2 separate regions of the Homo sapiens genome follow, and region 2 is linked to region 1. Evidence: fine-mapped expression QTL. Tissue or cell type: whole blood. Region 1 holds a variant in brackets; the other region holds the start of a gene. All regions are shown on one strand. Distances are between the middles of the regions.

What was found. PIP is the estimated chance that this variant, and not a neighbour inherited with it, causes the effect.
Region 2: it holds the start of PRKCZ-AS1, and the variant in region 1 is fine-mapped to the expression of PRKCZ-AS1 in whole blood (TOPMed, PIP 0.93).

Annotation. Positions count from the first base shown.
Region 1 is chr1:2,114,923-2,120,062 of GRCh38, reverse strand. All of the region lies in intron 4 of PRKCZ (protein kinase C zeta), which reads right to left. Among named protein-coding and RNA genes, the nearest start is that of PRKCZ-AS1, 66 kb to the left of the region's middle. The variant G/A (reference allele first, on the strand shown) is at 2,625.
Region 2 is chr1:2,181,719-2,186,858 of GRCh38, reverse strand. It overlaps PRKCZ-AS1 (PRKCZ antisense RNA 1), which reads left to right and starts at 2,984. Exons shown (of 2, transcript NR_146290.1): 1 at 2,984-3,288; 2 at 4,118-5,065. PRKCZ (protein kinase C zeta) reads right to left here. Exons shown (of 18, transcript NM_002744.6): 17 at 2,161-2,276; 18 at 1,464-1,937. The coding sequence ends at 1,850. It also overlaps a transcript of FAAP20 not described here.

The sequences.
Region 1 (5,140 bases):
CCAACACAAAAACCTGTTGGGGGAAACCCCCTACCTGCCTAGAACTCCACACAGAGTGGAGAACACCCTCCAGAAAGAATGCCAAAGACATTTCCCACACAAACAAAAAACAACTGGGCGTGGTGGCGCACACCTGCAATCCTAGCTCCTCAGGAGGCTGAGCCAGGAGAATCGCTTGAACCTGGGAGGTGGAGGCTGCAGTGAGCCAAAATCACACCACTGCACTCCAGCCTGGGCAACAAGAGCAAAAATCCATCTCAAAAAAAAAAAAAAGAAAAGAAAAGAAATAAAAAGAATTAATTACAAGTCTGTGCTGAAAGGAATACTAAAGGGACTACTTCAGGCAGAAGGAAGCTGGTCTCCATGTAAGCGCCGTCCTGCAGGAAGACTAGAAGGGTAACCTGGGGGTAAATCTGAAGGACCACTGTCTAAGACAACACTTGGTTTGTGGGTCTGAAATACACGTAGAATTTACAGGCATGATAATAACAGCACAAAGACTGATAAAATAATAGCACAAACTAACAATAAGGAAAGAAGAATAATTAGGCCAGGCACAGTGGCTCATGCCTGTAAACCCAGCACTTTGGGAGGCCAAGGCAGACAGATCACTTGAGGCCAGGAATTCGATACCAGCCTGGTCAATATGGTGAAACCCTGCCTCTACTAAAAATACAAAAAATAGTTGGGCATGGTGGTGGGCACCTGTAATCCCAGCTACTCAGGAGGCTGAGGCAGCAGAATCACTTGAACCCAGGAGGTGGAGGTTGCAGTGAGCCAAAATCGCGCCCTTGCACTCTAGCCTGGGCAACAAGAGTGACACTCCATCTCAAAAAAAAAAAAAAAAAAGGAAAAAATAAGAATTAAACTGTTATAAGGTTTTGAAGAAAATGGTAAAAGTAGTTTATGCTACGTTCCAAGGATGTGACTCATAATTTCTAAGGTAGCCATTAAAATAACATTAAGAGAAGTATTACTTAACAAAGCTATAATAATAAAGGGAGGAAAGTGGAATAAAAACATCTGATTAAACCAAAAGAAGGCAAGAAAGAGGGACAAAACAAAGAACAGACCGGACAAATAAGGACCCATAGCAAGATGACAAAGCTACAATGTAACACATCAGAATGACATTAAATGTAAACGGACTAAATCTTTCATTTAAAACACAGCCATTTTCAGACTGGATTAAAAATAACTAACTTCTGCTTTTAAGAGTCATTTCCAAAATATACAGAAAAGAAAGTGAAAGGATGAAAAAATAGAGCATATAAACACTAAGTCCCCTTCCCTCCCTCCCCTCATCTCACACACACACACACACACACACACACACACACACACACACAGAGCTGGTGTGGTCACACTAACATCATACAGATCAGATGTTAATGACAATAATATTTTCATCTAAAGAGCAACATTTGGCCGGGCACAGTGGCTCACGCCTGTAATCCCAGCACTTTGGGAGGCCGAAGCAGGCGGATCAGGAGGTCAGGAGATCGAGACCATCCTGGCTAACACGGTGAAACCTCGTCTCTACTAAAAATATAAAAAATTAGCTAGGCGCGGTGGCAGGCACCTGTAGTCCCAGCTACTCAGGAGGCTGAGGCAGGAGAATGGCGTGAACCCAGGAGGCAGAGCTTGCAGTGAGTGGAGATGGTGCCACTGCACTCCAGCCTGGGGGACAGAGCGACACTCTGTCTCAAAAAAAAAAAAACAAAAACATTTCATGATGATAAAAGCATCAATCAAAAGGAAGATATGGCCAGGCATGGTGGCTCACACCTGTAATCCCAGCACTTTGGGAGGCCAAGGCGGGCGGATCACCTAAGGTCAGGGGTTCAAGACCAGCTTGGCCAACATGGTGAAACCCTGTCTCTACTAAAAATACAAAAATTAACCAGGCGTGGTGGCACACACCTGTAATCCCAACTACTCAGGAGGCTCAGGCAGGAGAATCGCTTGAACCAGGGAGGCGGAGGTTGCAGTGCGCCCAGATCGGGCCACTGAACTCCACTCCAGCCTGGGTGACAGAGTGAGACTCCAAAAAAAAAAAAAAAAGAAATAATAGGCTAATCTCTCTCATAAATACAGTTGCAAAAACAACAAACAAAATAATAGCAAACTGAATCAAGCAAAATATAAAAAGGCGAACTCATCACAACCAAACGAGGCACACTACAGGAATGCCATCGGTCTACCATTAAGAGCCAATCCATAGAATTCATCGTATGAACAGAATAAAGGAGAAAAGTTCTGTCACATCAATAGATGAAGGAAAAAAAGCATCTGAAAAAATTCAGCACCATTCATATTAACAACTTTCAACTAGGAATAAAATAGAACCTCTTTAATTTGTTGGTGGGGATTTACGAAGGAAAAACAGTATTTCCGCAAACAGCACCCTTAATGGTGGAATTCTTAAAGCTTTTCCCTGAAATCAGGCACGAGAGGATGTGGCTGTCACCACTTCTGTCCCATACTGTTTTGGAAGGATCAACAGTGCCAGGGTAACAAGGCAACATCTGAAGGAAAGGCAGAAACAAACAGCCGGTCACTGACAAAATGGCAGCGCACAGAGAGGTTCCGGAGCAACCACAGACAAACTACGGGGACCAGGA[G/A]AGGCCAAGACAAATGAGTTAATCACACTTCTTTACACATTGCTATAAACAAAAAGATAAAAAAAAAAAAACTGTAAAAGTAATACGGCTTAAAACAGCATAAGCACTGAAATACCAGGGAATCATTTGAACAAAAAATGTGGATGACCGCTACACACAAGACTACAAAATATTATTGAAAGAATTTAAGGCCGGGTGCAGTGGCTTGCATCTGTAATCCCAGCACCTTAGGAGGCTGAGGCAGAAGGACCACTTGAGCCCAGGAGTTCAAGACCAGCCTGGGCAACATAGGGAGACCCTGTCTCTACAAAAAAATGCCAAAATAGCTGGGCATGGTGGTGCACACCTGTAGTCCCAGCTACTTGGGAGGCTGAGGTGGGAGGATTGCTTGAGCCCAGGAGGTCAAGGCTGCAGTGAGCCATGATCATGCCACTGCACTCCAGCCTGGGCAAGAGTGAGGTCCTGTCTGCCCCCCGCAACTCCCCTGCCAAAAAAACCCCAATCAAAGGCCTAAAGATATGTTCACGGATTGGAAACCTCAGTATTGTAAAGATGCTAATCTCCCATACTGATCAAGAAATCCAAATGCAATCCAAATGTCTTATGGAGATTTTGAAAGCAAATAAGCCAACTGTAAATGGCTTATTAACAAGCCCATGTGTATGGAAATGTAAAAAGCCAATAACCAAGATAACCTTGAAAACTAAAAACCCCAAATTGGAGACTCATAACACAAGTTACCAATGGTGATTATAAAGCAGAAGAAATCAGAACAGTACGACATGGGGGCAAAAAACAAAGGGGACAGATCAGTCCAGAAAGAGGCCCCACACACAGCCAGGACGCAAAAGCCCTAATTATAAAGTAAGCTTTTACTTTCTGTTCATCAGAAGACACCATCCATGGAGTGGAAGGCGAGCCGCGGAGTGACAGAAGCTGTTTGCAACACAAAAAATCAAAGCACTTGTCTCTAAAACACACACAGCCCCCAGGAACCAACAAAAAAGACGGACCCCCCAATGACATTGTTCTTTGACAGCCCAATTTTGAAATGGGGCAAAAGACTGGAACAGGCACCTTTAAAAGGAGGGTCCCCAATAACCCGGGAGCCTCGGAGAAGCAGCTCACCTCAGCCGTCGCGAGGCCACAGCCTAGTGCCTTTCAGATCTGCTGTGCTGGCGACAACGCAGGGCTCTGACAGTCCATGTGCTGGAAGGAGGTGCATCGGGAATTCCCACACGACCCAGAGTGACTGTGCCATCAACACAGATTCAGCCTTTGTCTCAGTTTCCCAGCGCGCAGCCCCTCTGACCCTAGGAATCCTGGAGTGCGGTAAGAGTGTCTTTTTGCATGCTAATGAGATGACGGGGAGCCGGGAGCCGGGACAGCTCCAGGATGCGGCTGGTCTTCAGCAGGACCAAGGAATGCCTAGCGGGTTGGAACTTTCCGTCCCACAGCCCACGGTCCAGAGAGGAGACAGGAGAGACTGAGGTAATCAGCAGTGGCTGGCTGTTGAATCAACCGTGCCTGTCACGAAGCCTCCACAAAAAGCCCTCAATGACATGGTCTGGAGAGTGTCCGAGTTGGTGAATATACCAAGGTGCTGGAGGGTGGCGTGCCTGGAGAGGGCACGGAAGCTCTGCACCCCCCATACCTCAGCCTCCCGTGCAGCTCCTCCGTGTGGCTGTCCTTTCTAATAAACGGGTACACTAAGCAAAGTGTTTTCCTGAGTTCCGGGAGCTATTCTAGCCCACCCGAGCCTCAGGAAGGGGTCACGGACACCCCCGATTCACAGCCAGTTGGTCAGAATCCAGGTTGTCACCTGGCACTTGCAGCTGGCTCTCAAGTAGGGGCAGGCTTGTGGGAATGAGCCCTTCATCTGCAGGGTCTGCGCTAACGTCAGGTAATTGATGTCAGAGCTGAATGGAAACACAGGACACCCAGCTGGCGCCAGAGTGGCTGTGGGTGCAGAAAACCCCACATAACTGGAGGCAGAAACACAGTGCAGAGTGCGACCTGGTGCGGCCACGCGAGGGAAACGTCTGTTTCCCGGAAACTCCACTCCTGGGTGTGCCCACATGAAAGATGCGCCACGGGCAACAGAAGGCGCTCGGATGTCTGTGGCCAAAAGCCGGGACCCCGGTGCCTCGCAAGATGAGGGTGGATACATAAGACGTGGAGAATTCAGCCAGCAGAGCAGCCCCGCAGTGGGGACGGACACGGCAGAACCGCACCCCACACCACGGGAAAGCCCCACACAGGGGCCCGACTGAGCGGCCACACCCAGGGTGGATGGCCCCGGATCCCAAGACAAAAGCTCGAAACAAGCAAAACTATCTGCAGGCACCAAGGCCGGGGACGGGTAGGTTACGCCTGGGGTCACCTCGGGGTGTGGGGGTGGCCCCGCGTCCAGAGGACAAGCTACACACGGATCAGCTATGTGACGCGGTGCAGTTTGCTTTGTAAAAACTCGTGGAGTTGAACGCTTCAGATTTCATGTTTTAGGGAGTTTTGTT
Region 2 (5,140 bases), 67 kb before region 1:
TGGCAACACGGCAGTATTTAGGTAAGTGCCTTCAATATTTAACAAATCAAGGAGGCTCATGGAAAGCAGTTTGCTTGTTAACCACTTCTGGGATACACTGGGGGTCTCCCACTCAAGGTGGGGTCCCGGCAGCCCTACTCACCCGGCAGGTGTAACTTCAGCGGCCGCAGGCTGGGCCTGGCCACCTGGGCATCCCCACGCTGGTCTGGGACACCTGTGTGAGACCCAGGTCGGCTCCTGGACTCTGCCCTGGGGTTTCTAACTTTCCGTCTTTGGAGTTGAGTCTCAACAGCTAAGGTTGGGAGTGTGGCTGAAACCCGTCTCCACATTCCACCTAGAAGCCTGAGCTGGCCGGGGGGGGGCGGGTGTCCAGGGTCTCGGGCCGGGGGGAATGGGCCGGCAGTATGCCCAGCGCTGGCATTCTTGTCCTGGCACCTGGGGCTTGGGTGTGAATCCACCATGTCGTGCTGAGCGCCAGGCACGGAGTGGCACCCTGAGAAACCTGAGTGTGTAGGGTGGGCCACGCTCACCTGCTGGGGATGACCTTGAGGCAAGGCAAGGCGCGGCACAGACCTCCTAACTTGGGGTTTTACGTCTCTCTTCCCCAAGCCACCAGCCGCACAATGGGGTGGAGCGGCCCCTGAGTCATGGAGGCCTGGGGTCTCTGCGCCTGGCCAAGAGGGCTGCGTGGCAATTTCCACACCTGTGCACCAGGCCTCACTCAGAGGCATGAGGTGGCGCGACCCCCTCTCCCAGGGAGCTCAGAAGACGGCTCTGCCACACCTGACACCTGGCAGCTGGCAGCCCTGCCTCTAGGAAGCCTCAGCTCTGGACAGCTGTGCCTTCACCTGAGGGGTGGGTGGACGGAGAGCGCGGGTGTGTTCCCGGGAGCAGGAGGTCCGCGCCGCTGGGAAGAGTGCCTGTGTTTCTGGGTGTTTGTAGGGTCATCACGTTCAACTTTAAGGCTGGGGTCCGTCACATGCACATCTTTTAGTTTTCCCTAACTCTCAGTGCTGTGTGACAGATAAGAATATCTTCCAAAAATCAAATGCGTCGCACGAGGCATCGTGCAGGCACTGCTTAGTGTGGTCAGAAATGATTTGTGCAGATTTAGTGTTCAGTTTTTTCTCTTTTTTGGTCTACTGTGCTTTGGTGGGCCACGTTTTAGAATCTCTATGATCCAATTTCCCCCATCGGTCCAGTGAGCTGGCTGGCCCAGCTGCCATCTGCTTAAGGTGTCACTTCACCCTAGACCACAGCGGCTGGGACACACTCTGCAGGAAGAACAACAGGAACTTACCGGGGTTTTTAGGAAACAATTCTTGATTGCGGTGTGTCCCCACAGGTACTTCAACTCCCGCCCCCACCTGTGTCCCGCTGGCTCCTAAGCTGCCCCCCTACGTGTGGGTTGCGTCTGAGATGTGGGGCAGGCGCCACTCACGGAAAAAAGGCATCAGAGGAGCTTCCACATCATCGGAACATTTTATTCCTCAGGACGCTACACGCTCACTTTCCTGGCGGAGCAGGTCAGTGCATCGAGTTCTGTTTCCGTGGAAAATGTGCACCTTGGAAACCGCATGACAGCCCCCTCGGCAGGGTCCCCGCGGATCCGCCGCGACGCAGGCACAGCAGCAAGTTCCTCCAGCACGAAGCTGGCCTGCCCGGGCCCAGGTGTGAGGGACTGTTCTGCTCCCAGCAGCGCCCGCTGACGCTTCCCTCTGCGGTCTCGGCGCAAGCGTCTGTCCCTGGCCGCCCTCGGAGCCGTGCCCAGCCTGGCATGCATATGCGGTGGTTAAGGATACAGTTAAAGGGTCAATCACGCGTGTCCACGACAGAGACGCACGCGGCCTCACACCGACTCCTCGGTGGACAGCAATAATGGGTTGATATACTCAAAGCCTTCGAACTCTGACTGGTCGATCCTCTTTATGGCATCCCTGTGGGCAAAGGTGGCAGGGGGGAGGGGGGTGACCGTGTGTTCATTCCCTTGGGGGAAGCGGAGTCACGTTCGCATAAGAATCCTCCCCCAACGCCCACTGGAGAGATGACACCAGGCGGGTGGGACTCAAGGGCAGGCTGGGTCACCAGCTGCCCAAGGTGCCGGCCTGCCATGGGGCTGCCCGAGGGGTGCTCCAGGGACCCGCACCCAGTGGGACTCACTCATCGTCTGGGGTCAGCTGCACGGGCTCGCTGGTGAACTGTGTGTCAAAGTTGTCCAGACCGTAGTCGTCTGTGATCTGTGGCTGGAATGGAGGGAGCGCCTGCTTCTTCTCCAGCTTGGAAAAACAATAGGAGAAGGGTCAGCTCCGCGCGGGCATCATCCCTACCAGATTGAGTGTTTTGCACGCACTTCAATCACAAAATGAAACAGTGAGAAAGTCAGCATTTCAATCTGCCTAGTATTTGACTGCCAAGTGTTTTTTCTTACAACACAAAATCTAGAAAATATCCAAAGTCAGAAAAATTGTTGTCGAGCTGAGAAATGCCAGTGTCGGCCATGCTGGCCACATGTGGGACGGAGCAGGATCCCCAGCCACCCATGCGAGGCCACCCCCTTCCTTGGGGGGGTCCTTGTTCAGAGGGGCACCGACAACTAACTGGCTGAACAAGCCGTCTCATGACGTCTTGGAACCCTGACCATAAAGGTGTAGGACCTGGCCACAGCACCCTGCCTGCGCTGGCACTGCACAGACCCGTCTGTCAGGAGCCTCCTGCCGGCCCATTTCTGCCTATCCAGGCATCGACTTCAGAATCTCAGGTGCTGCTTGGCAGGAAAATGCCCAGCAGGCGGGCCTGGGACTCGGTGATGCGCCTGTGCCGGGGAGGGCAGAACGCTGGTGCCTGGCACAGGTGCCACAACACATACGGGTGAGGACACTGAAAACCCCTCAGTTCCCCCGACTCATGGCCACTTGTCCCAGTGACACAGCCATGCTCTCCCACTCACCCACAATAGGGTCTGAATGTGCCCCCCAGATTCACAGTGAGAAACTCATTCCCCAGAGCAACAGTGTAGAGAGGTGGAACCTGATGGGAGCCCCGCCCTCACAGACAAACTCCTGTAGCTGTCAAGACAGCTTGGGCATGGATTCCTCTCTGCCTTCTGCCATGTGGACACGTGGCCTTCCTCCCCTCTCTCCTCCGGGGAATGCAGTGTTTGGGCGCCATCTTGGAAGCAGAGATCAGGCCTCACCAGACACCAAGCCTGCTGGCACCATGACCCTGGACTCCCAACCTCCACAGCTGGGAAAGAACTCTGCTCCCTAGAAATTACCCAGGCTCGCTCAGGTATTCTGTTACAGCAGCACCAAGAGACATTCACTCGCTTACTCCCTCACTCTCTAACCCACTCCCATTCACCCTCTCACTCCCTCTCTAACCCACTCCCATTCACCCTCTCACTCCCTCGCTAACCCACTCCCATTCACTCATTCACTCACTCACTCTCTAGCCCACTTTTTTTTTGAGATGGAGTCTTGCTCTGTTGCCCAGGCTGGAGTGCAGTGGCGCGATCTCGGCTCACTGCAACCTCTGACTCCGATTCAAGCTATTCTCCTGCCTCAGTCTCCTGAGTAGCCGGGACTACAGGCATGCACCACCATGCCCAGCTAATTTTGTTTTTTGTTTTTGTTTTGAGACTCGCTCTGTCTCCCAGGCTGAAGTGCAGTGGCACGATCTCGGCTCACTGCAAGCTCCACCTCCCAGGTTCACACCATTCTCCCGCCTCAGCCTTCTGAGTAGCTGGGAGTACAGGCGCCCGCCACCACGCCTGGCTAATTTTGTTTTTGTATTTTTAGTAGAGGCAGGGTTTCACCATGTTGACCAGGCTGCTCCCGAACTGCTGACCTCAGATCATCTGCCCTCCTCGGCCTCCCAAAGTGCTGGGATTACAGGCGTGAGCCACCGCGCCCGGCCCTCTTTAGCCCACTCATTCACTCACTCCCTCGCTCTCTAACCCACTCCTGCTCACTCACTCATTCACTGGCTCACTCACTCTCTAACCCACTCTCTCTCATTCCCTTGCTCGTTCTCTAGCCCACCCTCGCACACTCATTCACTGGCCCGCCCCTTAGGTGTGTGCTCCTGTACCAACACTGAAATCCAGCTGTCACAACAGGCACCCACTGACTCCAGCCTCATGGAACCACCATTCACCAGGCTTGAGGGGAGGATGTCACGGCGCGCTGCTCCCTTCGGTGCCAGCCAGGATGGGGCCGGGTGGGTGCAGCTGGTGAAAAGAAATGCAGCCCCCCAGCCCCTGCAGACCAAGCCGAACAGCCCAGCTCGCGGGTGGATCACAGGGCACCCAGCAGCCGCCTTCCCTCCGGAAGAGCCAAGAAGGCTTCCAAGACCAGAAATGCCCCCAGTGTGGCTGTGCCTGTCCCCGGTGCCCCGCCAGCTGGGGGGCAGCATACCCAAACAGATGCACCCTGCCCATGATGGCACCCCAGGGACCCCCATCCTCAGGACCCTCCAGTCGTTCAAGCTGGAATTGGCAGGTTTCTGCCTGTATAGGCATCGGCTTCAGAGTCTCAGGTGCTGCTTGGCAGGAAAATGCAGGGCAGGAGGGGCTGGGCCTCAGCTCGAGGCTCCCAGGTGCAGCCCCCCACTCCACTGCAGGGCCCAGGGGGGCCAAGAACAGCCACAACAACAACAAAAGCCAAACTGGGAACGGAATCGTGGAAAAAACCCTCATAGGCTTTTGGGAACTTACAAAGAAATGCCCACATCCATTCTACTAACATGGCATCTACTAACGTGGCATCTACTAGGATGCCACAAAACAGACAAATCCTTCCACGTAAGGCTGGACACGTGTCAGGGCGGTGTCTCAAAGCTGGGCCACAGGCAGCATCCACGGCCAGGCCACTGGGTGGAGGAGACGGTGCTGGGGAGGAGCCGGAGGGAGGGGCCGGGGCTGTTCCCTTAGGCAGAACGGCTCACCTGTGGTGTGCGCACAGCAGGATTGTGGGGACACAAGATGCCCCCTTCATTCATCAGTTACTTGTATTCTTTGTATGAAACACCTGCCGATAAAATGTGAAAAAGGGGCATTTCCTAAAGTACTTTCCCTACCTTAGTCCTGTGCTGCTTTACAAGGGTTTAATAAGCAGCAGGGGTGGGAACAGAGCAGGACCCA